2 separate regions of the Homo sapiens genome follow, and region 1 is linked to region 2. A link means that fine-mapping ties the variant in region 2 to the expression of a gene that starts in the linked region. Tissue or cell type: whole blood. Region 2 holds a variant in brackets; the other region holds the start of a gene. All regions are shown on one strand. Distances are from middle to middle. Region 1 holds the start of PYROXD2 (pyridine nucleotide-disulphide oxidoreductase domain 2). Region 2 overlaps PYROXD2 (pyridine nucleotide-disulphide oxidoreductase domain 2).

What was found.
Region 1: it holds the start of PYROXD2, and the variant in region 2 is fine-mapped to the expression of PYROXD2 in whole blood (INTERVAL, PIP above 0.99).

The regions. Positions count from the first base shown.
Region 1 is chr10:98,411,752-98,420,043 of GRCh38, reverse strand. It overlaps PYROXD2 (pyridine nucleotide-disulphide oxidoreductase domain 2), which reads left to right and starts at 4,862. Exons shown (of 16, transcript NM_032709.3): 1 at 4,862-5,035. The coding sequence starts at 4,909. HPS1 (HPS1 biogenesis of lysosomal organelles complex 3 subunit 1) reads left to right here. Exons shown (of 20, transcript NM_000195.5): 19 at 1,787-1,869; 20 at 2,318-3,846. The coding sequence ends at 2,480.
Region 2 is chr10:98,382,827-98,391,150 of GRCh38, reverse strand. PYROXD2 (pyridine nucleotide-disulphide oxidoreductase domain 2) reads left to right here. Exons shown (of 16, transcript NM_032709.3): 11 at 69-141; 12 at 397-553; 13 at 2,643-2,797; 14 at 3,844-3,950; 15 at 6,084-6,204; 16 at 7,283-7,583. The coding sequence ends at 7,353. Among named protein-coding and RNA genes, the nearest start is that of MIR1287, 8.3 kb to the left of the region's middle. The variant C/TCCTTCCTTCC (reference allele first, on the strand shown) is at 4,824.

The DNA of each region.
Region 1 (8,292 bases), 29 kb before region 2:
TAGGTGAGGCTGAGTCCCTGGGCCAGGACGGGCCACACACACTTCCCGCTCTGTAACTCTTGGATTCCTTTCTTCTGAATTGTTGTCTGTCTGTCTCATCTTCTCTTCTTGTTGCTGGTAAGCCCAGCAGGTTGGGAGCCAGAGTTCAGAGGTCACATTTTCACATGGGCGTTTAACTGCTTTGTGATCCCTCTGCCCAGCTGTCTGGCAAACTCTTGCCATTGTCCACGTGGCATCCAGGCACACATGTGAGCAGAAAGGCACATGCCCCACTGTGAGAAATGCGACTCAGACCACACACTTTGTCGCTAGTGCTTCCATGTCGCCAGCGTCACATGCCAAGTGTGGCACATGGTCATCCCTGTGGCATAGGCCCCTGAACTCAAGAGCATAGGCCCCTGCTTGAAGCAGTGAGCCAGGCTGCCTGAGGAGACACTGGTGGTGTGGCTCGGGGCCCTGGCCTCCAGGCCCTGCACTGCTTCTTCTGGGCCTCACTGTTACTGCAGAGTAGGGTCCAGTGGGGGGAGCTTACTATCATTGTGTCTCCATCCATACAACGGGGTCAGGGATCCCTGCCCCAGCCACTGCACAGGGCTGTGAGGGGTGCAGTGGCTGGGACTCCTCTCCTCCTGTCTCTCCCTCCTCTCTGTCTTTTCCCTTTCTTCGCTTTCCTCCTGTTTCTCTTTTATTTGCATCTCGCTTGTCACCATAAGTGGTTGTTCCAGCTCTCAGGAGTGGTTGTTCCAGCTCTCAGGAGTGTTCCTCCTCCCTCGCAGCCCTTGGTCTCTGGGTCCCTGCACTCCTGTGCCTTCCCCTGCCCCCACCCTGCACTCTTTGTTCACTGAGGGTGACAGCCATCCCTTTCCATAGGGCAGGGCGGTTACTGGGGCTCTCCACCACTGTTCTCTCAGTTACCCCCTCACAGCCCTGTAAAGTGGCTGGGGCAGGGATTCCTGACCCCGTTGTACGGATGGAGACACAATGATCCGGAGATCAGACGCCATGGCCAGGGCCACCGAGGCTGTAAGTGAGGAAGCCGGAGCCCAAGCTCTGCTCCCCCGGCCTGCAGGCTCCCAGCTTTCCTCCGTGCCCTCAGAAGTGCCCAGGACGTGTGTACAACAGAAGTGCTAGAAAATTCCTGTGACCTTTACCTTCACTTCTAGGGAGGGACAGGAGTCTGTGTGCTTGGGTGGCCCCGTGGGGTGATAAAGTGAGGCAGAGCTGTGGGCTGGAGAGGCCAGGTTTGAATGCCAGCCACACAGCCCAGCCGGTGCCGTGGGGGCAGCCCTGCACACTAGGGAGTCCACTCCCCCTGCAGGGCAGGCCACGGTGCCCAGGCAAGCATCAGCTAAGTGCCATGTTCATGCCTGGCACACACGGCACGTCCAGCAGATCTTAATTCCCTTCCCCACCTTATCCCACCCTGGGAATTCCCAATTCTTTCAGAGCAGAGGCTTGGGCCTTTTGTGAATGCTCTGCTCTTCAAGACCTGTATGACAGCCCTGCAGGGTGCCCTCCTGAGCGTGTGTTTGTGGCCTGTACAGGTCCAGGTATTGACGGTAATGAGAGCTACCCTGCCGGCCCTTGAAGCTTTGTATACTTTTTCTCTAATGTTCATAAGGTGACTGTTGTCATTCTGACTTCAAAGATGAAAAAACAAGGTCCAGGCATTTTCCCAAGCACCCAGCGCACATGACAGAGCCAAGCCAGGCCGCAAGCCCGGTGCGTCTGACTCAGGCCCTTGCACTACCCCCACACCCACTGCCTCCCTGTCCTCCCTCCTCAGGGGTACAAACTCCAGATGATCGAGGTGCCCGTCCTCTCCGACGACTCAGTGCCTATCGGCATGCTGGGAGGAGACTACTACAGGTGACGCTGCGTTGGGAGCCACTGGGGACAGATGCCCCCATTTGGGTGATAAGTGCTCGCCTCTGCCGGGAGCAGCTTCTGCTTCAGCAGTGCCCTACCTCAGACCCAGAAATCCACGCTGGGAACACCTTCCCGGCTGGCCCTGTGTGCAGCGAGGGAGGACGGGTGTGGAGGGTACATCTGTGTTCCTACCACCTTCCTGCTGGCATGGTCTTGGCAGCACGGGGAACGTCTGTGCCCGGCCCAGAACATCCCCACTGCTACCTCGTAGCCAGGATGCCACTGTTAGGTCAGTGAGGAACCGGAGCGGTTGTCAAGGCCCACATGCAGGGGCCTAGTGAGATGACCGAGGGCATGGGCATTTGCTTGCGAGGGCCCAGAGAGGCCTCTGGCGCTGGAGGAGTGCCACAGCCTCACTCCTGAATCCCATCCTCCCCTTCCTCCCCAGGAAGCTCCTGCGCTACTACAGCAAGAACCGCCCAACCGAGGCTGTCAGGTGCTACGAGCTGCTGGCCCTGCACCTGTCTGTCATCCCCACTGACCTGCTGGTGCAGCAGGCCGGCCAGCTGGCCCGGCGCCTCTGGGAGGCCTCCCGTATCCCCCTGCTCTAGGCCAAGGTGGCCGCAGTCTGCCTTTGCATCCTGTCCTCCAGCCACCCTTGCTTGCCACTGTTCCCCATGACGAGAGCCTCCTGTCTGCAGTGGCCATCCTGAGGATAGGGCAGAGTGCCCAGGGTGGCCCCAGGGCTTCTAAAACCCCACCTAGACCACCCTCCATGTCAGGTACTGAGCAAGGCCCCAGATCCTTCTCTCTGGAGGAAGAGGGAAGCCCAGGGGTCCTGTTTGTAAAACAACGGTGGCAACAGCTCCTCTTCCAGAGCTGCCTCTGCCTTTATCCTGGGAGATGGGGAGGAAGCCCCATCTCTGCTGTTCCCTGCGTGGAGGAAGCCCACCCAGCAAGCTCTCTCCTACCCCAGGTAAAAGGTGCTCCTTTGCCTGGGTTTGAATTCCAGCGCTGCCACTTCCTCTCTGCACCTCCTGGCAAGTTTCTTCTATTCCCCACGTTTAAAGCGATGGCACCTCCGTCCCAGGGTGGTGTGAGGATTACCCAGTGTGGTAGGTGCTCAATAAATGTTGGTCATTGTTATCACTGAAGCCCAACATGCTAGTGCTTCTAGACCCTTCTGTCAGTGCTGATAAGCCCTTGCTAAGTCCCAGCCCCTTCATGCTTGGCTGGCGTCTGCCCTAGGGCTGGGGTTCTCAAGCCCCTGGCCCTGGCCCAGAGATTTGGATTCCCTTGGCGGCCGTGGAGCCCAGCCTTTGATGTCTTTCAAAGCTTCTGTGGTGCGCCCTGGATTGAGAACCACCACCCGAGGGGTACAGCCCCTCTCTTCCAACCGAGAAGTTCCTGTCCCAGAATGGACCCAGGGACAAGAGACCCTGAGAGCCCTGGGACTGGGAGTGTCTGCTCCTCTGAGGCCAGGAGGCCGGTGCTGGGCCAGAGAGGACGGCGTGGCGAAAGTCAGCGTCCACTGCAGCACAGGATCAGATGGCCGTGTGCTGTGCATGCAGGAGCCTCGCCTTCTGTGTCTTTAGTCTTGAGCCAAAATTTGCTCAAAGACTGATCTCTTCCTTGCAGGGAACAGCTTTGGGGCTGGGGGAACTAGAACCCACATGTTGGTCTAAACCCTGAGAAGGTGGCAGTGAGGAAGTATCCCCTCAGGTGACTGGATCTGTGTTCCTCCTTAACATCATCTGATGGAATGGCAATGAAAAGCGTGGATTGTGGAAAATACAGAAAAACATAAAGGAAAAAACTCCAATCCCCTGAGCCCACCACTGTTCAGGACCCCTGCTTTTGTCACCTACTATTTCCCTTTAGTTTTTAGCAGCGGCTGGATGTGATATGTCTAGTTTAACCAGTCCCCTTGATCTTTCTATATAATAAATAACACAGGAGTGAACATCCTGAATCAGATCTTAGCAGAGATGCTCACATGCGGGGTAACTGTCCATGGTGTGTGGAGGGGTCCTCGGAACCCCCTCTTAGGATCATCTCCACATACTCTCCCAGTTCTGAGATTCGTTACCAATAGCAGGTTTCCGTCACACTGCGATATCAGAGCAGTGCAGGAACTCTCCGCTCCAAGGGGTTTTTTCCTCCTAGGGGAACACTCTGCTAAGTAATGGGCAGAGAACAAAGGGGCTCCTAATTCAAGGCAGGCCTAAGGGAGGGTCAGAAAGAACTTTAGCTGGAGGTATTTACAGATGTGACCTCGAATCCTTGGGGATTCTTGGAAAATGGGCAAGGTGCCAAAAGAGGAGAACTGGCCAGGCCTTCAAAACTAAAACACCAGAGAATTACAGACAGCGAACTTGCCCCTAAGCCCTCGTTGTGGGTTTGTGTTTGAGCATTTAGGAGAGGACTCCAGTGCTCCTCAGCGACAGACACAGCTGCCTCTGCGGTGTCTGAAGGCCCTGGTCGTGGTGACGCTAGATGGCCGCCCTGGGCGCCTCCTGTGGGCGTAGAGGCATCACCACTCTGCACTGGCAGACTCAGCATGGAGTTGGAGCAGAGTCTGACACGAGCACTTGCCATCCCAGGCGTTTCAGTTCTGACTGAGAAGGTAGATGCACAGGGGAGGAGAGGGCCCTTTCGAGCTCCACTCTGCCTCCACCACTCATTCCCTAACCCCGCAGCCTCAGCGCCCTCATCTGTAAAATGGGGAGTTTTGCCTACAGGGTTCAGCACAATGCCAGCCTGACATAGGAACCCCAGTGGATTGTCAGTTTTGCCATTATCCCCTGCATCCTGGAGGTGACACCGCCTGGTTAATAGGCAACACTCCCGACGGCCCAGCACAGCCCCAGGGCAGCAGGAGGCTGGCCTGTGGCCAAGAATGCATGGTGGAGGGGGCCTGGAGGGGGACTGCAGCTCCTCCTCTTCCTGCTTCCTCCCTGCTCCACCCCGTGCCTAGGGCAGCACAAAAGCCAATCGCTAGCAAACTCCCTGCCTAGCAAGGCCCAGCCTGGGGCAGAAATGGCTGCAAGTGGCCGAGGTCTCTGCAAGGCTGTGGCCGCCTCTCCCTTCCCGGCGTGGAGACGAGATAACACGGAAGCCAGGGGAGGTCTGAAGCCTGAGTATGATGCGGTGGTGATAGGAGCAGGTAAAGTGGTAAAGCAGGCCGGGCCAGAGCTGAGGGGCGGGAAGACAGCCCTGCTCAGAGCTTGGTGGGGAGGGGGAGGGGGAGCCAAGCCCCACTGCTCTCTCCTCTGGCATAACCCAGCCAGAAGTTTATACGCTAGCAGGGGCTGCAATGGAAAGCCCTTCCATCTGGCAGGCAGGCACCTGGGATTCCGGTGCTGGCTCTGCTGTGTGGCCTGGGGCAAATGCTTGCCTTCTCTGGGCTTGGATCTTCCCATGGAGAATGACAGGAAGACTAGGTGAGCTCAGGGGTTTCCCTATATCTCTTGCAAAGTGACCTAGTTTCCACCACATTCTCAGCCTATGGTTTGTAAGGGTTGGAAAGAGCCCTGGGCCAACAGACAAGTGAAATCCAGCACCCCGCCCCCTCAGTGCCCTGAGTTCTGGTCACCACTACCTTACCACTGAGGCCACCCCTCGTCACAAGAAACTGCAGTCATTTCATAAAGGCCAGTTAGGATAAAACAGAACTGAGTCCCAGAGTTCCTACTGCGTGTCTGCAGAGGGAGATGGACCCCATTGCCTTGCAGCTCTGGGACATTTGGGGATCTGCAGTGATCTGCCACACTTTGCCAACCCCTGGGCTCAGAGTATCACAGTCTACTGGGTGCTAGGGGAAGAGGCAGGCCCAGGACCAGGTGGTCTTTCCTTAGTGCCTTCCTTTCACACTTGCAGAGGGCCCCAAATGCATGATTGCCAACTGGGTCTATACAGAGATAATGACGGGACCGAAAGCAGACGGCACTCAACATGCAGCTTTGAGGGCATGCCTTCATTTTCATATGTACTAGAGCAGTTGCGAGCTGGTAGATACTCAACACTCACCTCTCCAGGGAAAAATGTGTGATGTATGTGTGTGTGTACATGTATATATATGTATATATACACACATATATGTGTATATATATGTATATGTGTTACGTACATATATATACACATATACACATGCTTATTTTAAATATTGAAATAAAAGATACACTGCACACAATTTTACAAATAAAGATACAATACTCTCAATTTAAATGCAGTCTACCCGAGTGATTCTTACCAAAGGCTTTCTTTGATTTTTGCCAAACTCAGTAGCCAACCTATAGTTGCAAATGACAAATGAGGGTAGCTCCAAAGAGAACGGTGCTCCATATTTTCTGTAAAGAGTAGGATGATCGTGAAACAAATGAAACAACAAAGATTTATGTCCCAACCTTACTCCTTTATTTTTTAAAATTTATTTTTATTTTATTTATTTATTCATTTATTGAGATGGAGTCTTGCTCTGTTGCCCAGGCTGGAGTGCAGCGGCGCAATCTCGGCTCACTGCAACCTCCGCCTCCTGGGTTCAAGCGATTCTCTTGCCTCAGCCTCCCGAGTAGCTGGGACTACAGGCGCCCACCACCACGCCCGGCTAATTTTTGTATTTTTAGTAGAGACGGGGTTTCACCATGTTGGCGAGGCTGATCTCAAACTCCTGGCCTTGTGATCCACCTGCCTCAGCCTCCCAAAGGGCTGGGATTACAGGTGTGAGCCACTGCGCCCGGCCTCCTTCTTTAAATGACAGGAATGATGTTACTCAAATAAGATAATATTGTTCTAATACTAGAATATTTCCTTCAATTTTTGTGCTATTTATTCATGCTATAACAGCTAACACTGTTAGGTTTAATCTGCATTATTAGCATTTTCCCATCACTTTCTTAAGCCTGACCACAAAAAATAAATTCAGCCCTTCTGTGTAATATTTGCTGATGACAGTGGTGTAAATACTCCCACCATAGCCTTTTCTGTTACCAAGATGAGGTTGCTCAATGTGATTTAGGAGAGATACCCAGTAGCACATCATTGTATAGTGTGTCCACCATGCAGATATGTACATAGAGGCCAGTGACTGCCAGGGCATGGGCAACAGTCAAATGTAGTAAAACAAATAGGAGGTAGTGTGTTTTGAGTATTTATTACCTTTGTTTTTAATTTATTTAATTGTAAGCTTATATAATTTAGTTTATATCAATGGCTGTTTGACAGCCGGCTCACAAACTCCCCGGGCTGGTGGGAGCCATCTCCAGCACCTCACTTAGCCTCAGAGAAGCCCCCTGCCTCCTTCCGTGCTCAGCCACAGCTCACCCTGCTGTCTCCTAATGGGGAAGGTTGACTTTAGGTCACCAGCTGCCTTGGTGACTTGCCTACAAGTGCGAGTGAGTCTCAGTGTGTGAGCTTTTCCTTGACATGATTTCTTTAGTTGCTAAACATACCATAAAGCCTGGTTTAAAGGCATCTTGGGCCTCAGTGAGGAACAGAACGGCATCTTCTGAGACAAGGGTTACCTCTGAGTCCCTGAAGGCACACTGGCACCTGGCCGCCACCTTGAAGATGAATCTCATTTAGTCATTTGACTAAATGTGCCTGAGAGTGACTGAGGGGGCTTGTTAAAATGGAGATTCCTGGCCCCATACCTGGTGACGAGCATTCTGAGGGCGGGAGGTGTCTCCCAGAGGTCAGCACATCCACCCAACCAACACTGCCTGATGCAGGCAGCTGCAGAGCCCACGCCCAGAGCAGCTCCTCAAGGGCCCAGGCGCCTGCTATGGGGCCCCTGAGGCAGGTCTGGGGATTAGCAGAGCCCGCAGCTGAAGTCCTCTTCAAGGGAACAGAGGTGTCACCAGAAGCCAAGGAGGGCTCAGCCAGGACTTGAGGGTGGTCACTGGGAGGGGGTCTTGTGCTTTGGATCCTTGACCTTACTCATTTGAGGTCTGCCATGATTGAACTGGACCCAGTTGCCTGGAAGACTATGAGTTTTCCAAGATCGATCATCAGCACCAATTAAAAGACAAATAGCTCCCATTTATCTCATCCTTGCCACACTGCAGGGTCCCTGGCACCCTCTGTTCCCCATGTGAAGAAACTCAAGGCTCAGGGCAGCTGATGACTCTCTGAGGTCATGCCCTGGCAAATAGCAGAGGCTGGGCTGAGCCCAGGACTGTCTGCCTTTAGTTTGCTGCATGTCTTTGAGAGACAGATTCCATCTGTTCATGAGTCCCACTGGCGGATTGTTTAAACTTTCTTATGAACATTTTCAAAAGCCCATACAAATAAAGAGTATGTCAACCAGCACTTTTTAAGATGAACTGTAACCAACTAGCTTCTCACATGCTTCTCATATGGTAAGAGTTAATTTTAGCTCATGAAACTTTTGGTTCTGTGAAACACCTGCTGAACAGACTCCTG
Region 2 (8,324 bases):
AAAGAAAGAAGGCAGCTTCCTTGGGGCCTTGGACATCTGAGGCCTTTCATGGAGCCTTCTCCTTCCAGGAGTGGCTTCCTGAGGAGTTCCTGGAGAGAATCTCTCAGCTGGACACCCGGTCGCCTGTCACCAAGATCAATGGTAAGAGGCACACCACATTGCAGCACTGTCTCCTTTGACCCATCTGAGTGAGAAACCTCCAGGCTGGGGGCAGCTGAACTCAGTCATCATCTCCATTCCCGGACCTCCAGCCTGTGTCCCCCTGCAGCCTGGTCAGAAGGTGAAACACTTGCTCATACTTTCCTACTCCCGTCCGCCACTGAGGGTAGCAGGGTGCTGGCTGTAGAGGGAGGACCTTGTGGGGCTAAGACCTGACCCTCCTCTTTGGTCCCTCAGTGGCCGTAGACAGGCTGCCCAGCTTCCTGGCGGCCCCCAATGCTCCCAGGGGCCAGCCGCTGCCCCATCACCAATGCTCCATCCACCTGAACTGTGAAGACACCCTCCTCCTTCATCAGGCCTTTGAAGATGCCATGGATGGCCTGCCTTCCCACAGGTAGGGGCCCTGGACTTTATGTTCCCTGATGTTCTTCCACATGGGCCTGGGAGGCGGGGCTGTCCATGCCACCCACAGCAGGGATCAGGCCTGGTGTTCAACCTTCACAGTGACTTAGGATCTGCCAAAATCCATACTCCTAAGGACAGGAAGTGCATCCCAGGTGAAAAATCTGAGGATGAGGGCAGGTAAGGGGTGAAGAGCGGCTCAGGTTAGCAGAAGGGGCAGAGGGGCAGAGCACTGCCCAGGAAAGTGCTGGGGCTGGGGAAGAAGAGGAGAAAATGTGTTCTGGGAGAGCAAAGGAAGTTCTCTCATTCAGAGCCCGTCAGAGAGCACGCACTCACCGAGTCCCCTGCTCCGTAGCCTTTCTTTTTCTGATAATCTGCCTTCTTGCAAAACTTCTAAAAGCATTTCCCACCTCCCACTGCAGCTGTATTTCCATTCTTCTGGAACAGGCAGGGGCGCTATAGGAGCAAGTGCCTTTCCATCCTGTCCGCTGTCCAGCACACACTGTTGAAAACCTACTCAGTGCTGGACTCTGTACTGGGTATGGGCTGGGAGAATTAGCGGGGCAGGGGCATGAAACTGACACAAAGCTTATGATAGGACAGGTACACAAATATTTATAGCATGTGGTAAAGAAGATGTGCGCCTGGAAAGAAGGGTATAGGGCAAAGTTCATTCATCCATTTATAAATATTCTGGGGTCTCTATTCTGTGCCAGGCTTGGTTCAGTGAGTGGGCACAGATCAGCAAGCAAAGCCAAGAAAGTCTCAGGTCGTTGACTCTCTATCCATGAGAGGAAGACAATCAACAAGTAAGCACTGATGATGAGCACTGTGGAGAAAAATAGGCAGGGAAGGGGAGGAAAGGCTTCTCTAATAACGTGGCACTTGAGCGGAGACCGGAAGGAAGTGAGAATACAGATCTTATGGGTATCTGGGGAAAAAACGTCCAGACAGAGGGAAGGTCAGGTGCAAAGGCCCTGGGGCAGGAGTGTGCTGCTGTATAGGAGGCACAGGGACGAGGCCAGAGTGGCTGGAGAGAGAGCACCTGGGAATGAAGGGTCTCGGATGGTGCTGGGTCTTGTCAAGTGCCCTGGCTCTTACTCCAGGAAAGTTTGTGCAGAGCCTGCCTTATGCTTTAAAAAGACCAACCTGGACACTGTATGCAGAAAAAGTTAAGGCATCTGTTGCAATGGGTTACTGTTGCAGAATCCAAGGGAGAGAGGACAGTGGCTTGGACAAGGGTGGGGGCAGGGGAAGTGATGAGAAGTGTTGGAAGACTGGGTATGTTTTGAAGGTGAAGCCAACAGGACTTTCTGTTGGATAGGGAGTGGGATGTGGGTCAAAAAAAGGAGCGACTGTGAAATGATGCCTCCATTTACTGAAAAGAGGAAGAGGCGGTGGGGGTGGAGCAGATTTTAGAGGCTAATCAGGCATTGGGGTTTGAACAGGGGATGTTTGAGATCCCTGGTGGACATCCGAGTTCAGCGAGAACATTGCAGCTGAGGGACGCAGGGAGAAGGGGCATTTCCCGTGGCCTTGAAGGAGACTCATATTTGGAGATCAGAGGGAGAACATGCTCCAGGTAGAAAAGGTGTGGCAGGCAAAGGTGGTGGGGTGGGAAGCAGGTCACAGCTCTGCTGGGGCTCGGGGCAGCCCTAGCAGCTCTGTCTTCCATTGGTCTGCTCTGGAAAAGACAGTCAGGCCACTAAAGCCTGGCTGAAATCTGGCTGCTTGGGCGCCTGCTGTCTTAGGCCTGGCCCCTTTCCACACTCCCACTGTCTGTGTGGACCTTCGAGACATTTGCGTTTGGGAGCTGTGGTTAGAGCACAGCGTGTGATGAAGGCAGGCAAGGACAGGCCATGCATTCGGGGGTCTGGGGTCAGGCGAGCTCCTCACAGGTGCTCTGGACCACGCTAGCAGCCGCTAAGCCCGTGCAGGTGGACAACCACTGTGGCTGTAGAGCGACAATCGCCCAGAATTGGTGTCATCTCAGGGCCTCCACTGTGTCCCAAGTCATCTCGGATGCCCTACCCTCCGCACTGCTGCTCTTTAGACCTGCCGTCTCCTCCCTGCCCGCACAGGCCTGTGATTGAGCTCTGCATCCCTTCCTCGCTGGACCCCACCCTGGCTCCCCCTGGCTGCCATGTAGTCTCCCTCTTCACTCAGTACATGCCCTATACGCTGGCTGGAGGCAAGGCCTGGGACGAGCAGGAGAGAGACGCTTATGCAGACAGAGGTAAAGACAGCTGCACGTTCTGCCTCCAGAGCCACAGCCGGGCATGCGACCCAACTGGGCCTGCTCCTCCTCACTGCCCCATTCAGGATTGACAACTGCAGGTGCCATTCCAAAGGGAGGAAATAGTCAAGGGAACCTCAAGTCAACATAGTTGACTGCAGGGGTCAGGAACTGGGCTAAGAAAGTCAAGAAGACACAGTTCCTGCCCTCCAGTTGCTCACAGTCTAGCAAGGGATGGAGGAGACTAATTAAGAAACCTTTTATTACAGCACAGCTGACTGCACGAACCAAAGGAGACGCATGAGCCAGAGAGACAAGGAAGGCTTTCAAAGGAAGGGATGGTCAAGCTGGGTTTCCAAGGATGACTAGGAGCTGGCCAGGCAGCAAAGGGCATTCCAAGCAAGAGAAACAGCTTGATCAGGCCAGGCGTGGGGGCTCATGCCTGTAATTCCAGCACTTCGGGAGGCCGAGGCAGGCGGATCACCCGAGGTCAGGAGTTCAAGACCAGCCTGACCAACATGGTGAAACCCCGTAGCTACTAAAAACATAAAAAAATTAGCAGGGTGTGGTGGCACATGCCTGTAATCTTAGCTGCTCAGGAGGCTGAGGCAGGAGAATCGTTTGAACCCAGAGGCGGAGGTTGCAGTGAGCTGAGATTGCGCCACTGCACTCCAGCCTGGGTGACAGAGTGAGACTCCGTCTCAAAAAAAAAAAAAAAAAAAAAAAAAACAGCTTGAGAAAAGTGAAGAGGTGAAAAAAGCTGCATATGCAAAAGGAGATCAGCAGCTTCGTGTTTAAGGTTGGGGTAGGGAAGTGGGGAAAACTGGGGACTGGACTGGCCTACCCATGCATCTTTGGGATGAATTAATCATTTGCTTGTGGACTGATTTTTGTTTTTCACCTATTGAGGTATAATTTGCATATGATAAAATAAGCCCATTTCTGTGTGTAATTTAATGACTGTTAGTAAATTTGCCAAGTTGTACACCCATAGTGCCTCCTCTTCTTCCTAACACCATCTCATTTCTCTGTTTTTGGCACCCCAGTGTTTGATTGCATCGAGGTCTATGCCCCTGGCTTCAAGGACTCTGTGGTTGGCAGAGACATCCTCACACCACCAGATTTGGAGAGAATCTTCGGGCTTCCTGGAGGGGTATGTATAAGCCTAGGGGGTCTCTCACCATAGCCTTCCCTCTGCACCCTCACTTCCTGGCTATGACCTCTCTGCTTTATCTTGTCCCTCCATACTCAGCTTTCATCAGGAAGGGAGGACAGTGGCAGGGACCCCGGCTGAGAGAGGGCAGAGAAGCGGTCAAACCGAGGGAATGGGGGATCCCTAGTGGGGGCTCAGAAACACAGGCAGGACAGCCCCCACTGAGAAGGTCACCAGGATTGTGGCCCTCTGCCTTGACAACTATGCTGGCTCTGCCATCTGACTTTCTTGAGAGAGAGCACCCCCTTCTCAAGGCAGCAGCACATCCTCAGACTTGTCAATTTATCAAAAACTAGAGATTGGAGACAGGGAGACCAGATAGGAGGCCAGGTTCAATCGCCTCATTGCAGCTACTGAGCACTTGAAAGATCAGAGACCACCCTAGGCAACGTAGTGAGACCCCATCTCTACAAAAACAAAAACCCCGCCAGGTGTGGTGGTGCGTACCTGTGGTTCCAGCTACCCAGGAAGCTGAAACAGGATGATCGCTTGAGCCCAGGAGTTTGAGACTGCAGTGAGCTGTGATGCGTCATTACACTTCAGCCTGGGCAACAGAATGAGACCCTATCTCTAGAAAGAAAATTTAAAAAAAAAGCAAAAGAAAGATCTGAGGCCAAAGTGAGATGTGCTGCAAGTGTAGAATGCACACAGTATAGAAAAAAATGTAAAATATCTCATCAATAAGTTATATATTGATTACATGTTGAAATTATAATATTTTGGATATATTGGGCTAAATAAAATATATTATTGACATTAGTTTCATCAGCTTGCCCTTCCTTCCTTCCTTCCTTCCTTCCTTCCTTCCTTCCT[C/TCCTTCCTTCC]CCTCCCTTCCTTGTTTCCTCCCTCCCTCCCTCCCTCTCTTCCTTCTAGAGATAGGTCCTGTTCTATCACCCAGGCTGGAGTGCAGTAGTGCAATCACGGCTCACTGCAGCCTCGACCTCTGGGGCTGAAGCCATCCATCCTCCCACCTCAGCCTCCTGAGTAGCTGGGCCTACAGGCATGCACCACCACACCTGGCTAATTTTTTTTTTTTTTTGTAGAGATGAGTCTCCCTGTGTTGTCTAGGCTGGTCTCAAACTCTGGGGCTCAAGTGATCCTCCCACCTTGGCCTCCCAAAGTGCTGGGATTGCAGGCATGGGCCACCACAACCGGCTCTGCTTTTACTTTTTAAATGTAGCTACTAATAAATCAAAAACTACATATGTAGCTCCCATTACATGTTCACTGAACAGCACTGGTCCAGGTATAGAGGAAAGAAGGCCAGGCAGCGGGAAGGAAGGGAATGGCTGGGTACAGCAGGCATGGGGCGGGCAGACTTGAGAAGCCTTGGTGACAGTGTGCACATAGGAGTCAGGGTGGAGGTGATGTGAAGGGTAGGCACAGAGGCCAGGGGGAGGAAGGTGGTGTCATTCACTTATGCAGGAGGATGGGGAGGAGCAGACTCGAGGGAAGAGGATGGCCTCAGTTTGGGGAAAGGTGAAGAGGGCAGTGGGGGAGCACTCCTGTGAGGATGCCCAACAGACGTCAGGCTTCTTGTCCAGACCTGCCCCCTGAGTCTGACCTTCGCTTGTCCCATGCTGCCTCCCTTCTCAGCCTGGGGCTGGTCTCACCCAAGCCAGGGGGGCAGAACCGTGCTCGGGCTCCGTTGCCCCTTGTCTGCCATTCACAGTGATCCTGCTGGAGCTTGGACACCGGGGTCCGGGCTCAGGTGGATGCCTTGGCCAGAGAAGGGAGTTCTCGCAGAGACGCATGCCAACAGCCACAATAAGTCAGACAATTCTGTTTTTCCAACAGAGGGAGAGGGATGCAGAGTAGAGAGCAAAACCCTCTTTTCCTTCCCGTTCAGTTCGTGTTCCCCACCCTGCTTTCTTCCTCAAAAAGCCTCTGGAAAACTTCACTCCCAGCCCCAGGGCATGTGCCCATTCCGTCTCATCTCCTTCCCTTTCTGCATTTTAAAACCCAAGAAAATATCCTGGAAGGAGAAGAACATTTGCTGAAGAACAGGGGAGGGGAAGAAACCCAGCCAGAGCAGGAAAGGCTGTAACTCTCCTGTGCTGATGACTGTGGCCCTGCCTCTGCAGAACATATTCCACTGCGCCATGTCCCTGGACCAGCTCTACTTCGCCCGCCCCGTGCCCCTGCATTCTGGCTACCGCTGCCCTCTCCAGGGCCTGTATCTCTGTGGAAGTGGGGCTCATCCTGGTGAGTGACCTGGAGTCCCACTACCCTGTGGGGACTGGGAGGGCTCACTGGAGGCCAGAGACTTGGAGAAGGAGGAAGTTAAGCAATGAAGGTGGCAGAGAGGGAGGGGAGCAGGGAACTCCCAACATAAGCTGCCCTGTGTTCAGAATTATCCATGCACAGGTGAGCACACAGCCGCTGCCTCCACCAGGCTGACCACAGCCCACAGTTGAGCTCACACCTCCCCTTCAGGAGGCCTGGGGATGCATCCTGGTGGAGGCATCTCACCACATTCCAATGTGGGGTTGTGAGAGACCCATGTCCCTAAATTCCCCATCCGTATATATATTTAGACAGGGCTTCACGCTATCGCCTAGGCTGGAGGTGCAGTGGTATGATCACAGCTCACTGCAGCCTCAACCTCCTGGGCTCAAGTGATCCTCCTGCCTCGGCCTCTGGAGTAGGTGGGACTACAGGTGTGTGCCACCATGCCTGGCTAATTTTTTATTCTTTTGTGGAGATGGGTTTTGTTAGGTTGCCCGGGCTGGTCTCGAACTCCCGCGCTGAAGTGATCCTCTCCACTCAGCTTCCCAAAGTGCTGGGATTAGAGGCCTCCATCCATATTTTAGACCAGGAAGGATGGATAAAGTTAACTTCTTCAACTTTACAATTCTTTCTTGTGCGCATTCCAAGCCTAACGGAGCTGGCTGAGGCTATTTGCTATGCACACTTTCTCTCAGCTGTGTAGACTTGGTACCCTGGAAAGAGTCTGGGCTTACACATCTTCCCCCTCCCCCCAGCCCCTTATTCTGAAATTTTAACTTCACTTACTAAGCGTGTGCCCATCCAGCACGTCCACCCTCAGCCGTTGAGACTGTGGGCTGTGGACCTGGCCCCTCCCCAGACCTTTGGTGCAGGAAGCCTGGAGGGAGCCAGAATCTATTGAGCGGCTGTCTTAGGTGATTCCAGTGCCCATGCCCCCGGACCCCTCTAACCAGCCCCACTCTGCTTTGTTGCTGGATCTCTGTAAGCCCTGTCCCCACCCCCACCCTGGCAGGTTTTTGAGCGGAGCTTTGGTTCATAGGAGATTCCCTTCCAGGAGGAGGTGTGATGGGAGCTGCTGGGCGAAATGCAGCACATGTGGCCTTTAGGGACCTCAAGAGCATGTGACCCTGAACCAGCTCTGACCCAGGAAGAAGACTCCACCCCTGAATTCCAAGTGCTCCATTGGATCAGCTTCCCAGGAAGTTCAGCTTCGGGTTAGTACATAAGGCCACCACAATGCTCAAGAAATTATTTTAGAAAAAACGTACGAGTTACATTTAGTGCAAGTTGACCTTATGCCCATGCCTCCATACATGGACTGGTTCTGTTTTATTAAAACTAATATTTCATACAGATTATTTTGCTTGTATTTTTTCTCTGTGTTAGTTGGTGGGATAGACTTCTCTGGGGTACTCATAATTCTTACATCAGCTAAGAAGCAGTCCATTTAAAGGCCAGGCATGGTGACTCATGCCTGTAATCCCAGGACTTCGGGAAGTTCAGGCAGGCAAATCACTTTGAGGTCAGGAATTCAAGACCAGCCTGGCCAACATGGTGAAACCTCATCTCTACTAAAAGTACAAAAATTAGACAGGCATGGTGGCGGGCGCCTGTAATCCCAGCTGCTTGGGAGGCTGAGGCAAGAGAATCACTTGAACCCAGGAGGTAGAGGTTGCAGTGAGCCGAGATTGTGCCACTGCACTCCAGCCTGGGCGACAGAGACTCCATCTCAAAACAAAACAAAACAAAAAACAGTCCATCTAACCAGTGGAAGAGTCTGATCCAAGCATCCCCTGTCCTTGCCTGGGACCCCCACTACCAACAATTGGAGGACTGCCCAGGTGGGGCCCAGTCAACCGCTGTCACATTCCTGGCAAGCTATAAGAATGGACCCAATTTCCCCATGATCCACAGAGTCACCCTCAAAGGCCACGGTCCTGAACAATGCTGGGCATCTCAAGCCACAGAATCCTCCAGTCAGGCAAAAAGCAGCCAAGGGTGACTGCAAAGTGGATTCCACTGAGGCCGTCTGGGAGCCCGGTCTTCCTGATTCCAGAGCATTCAGGCTTCTGCCTCCCATGAGCTAAGTCTGTTGC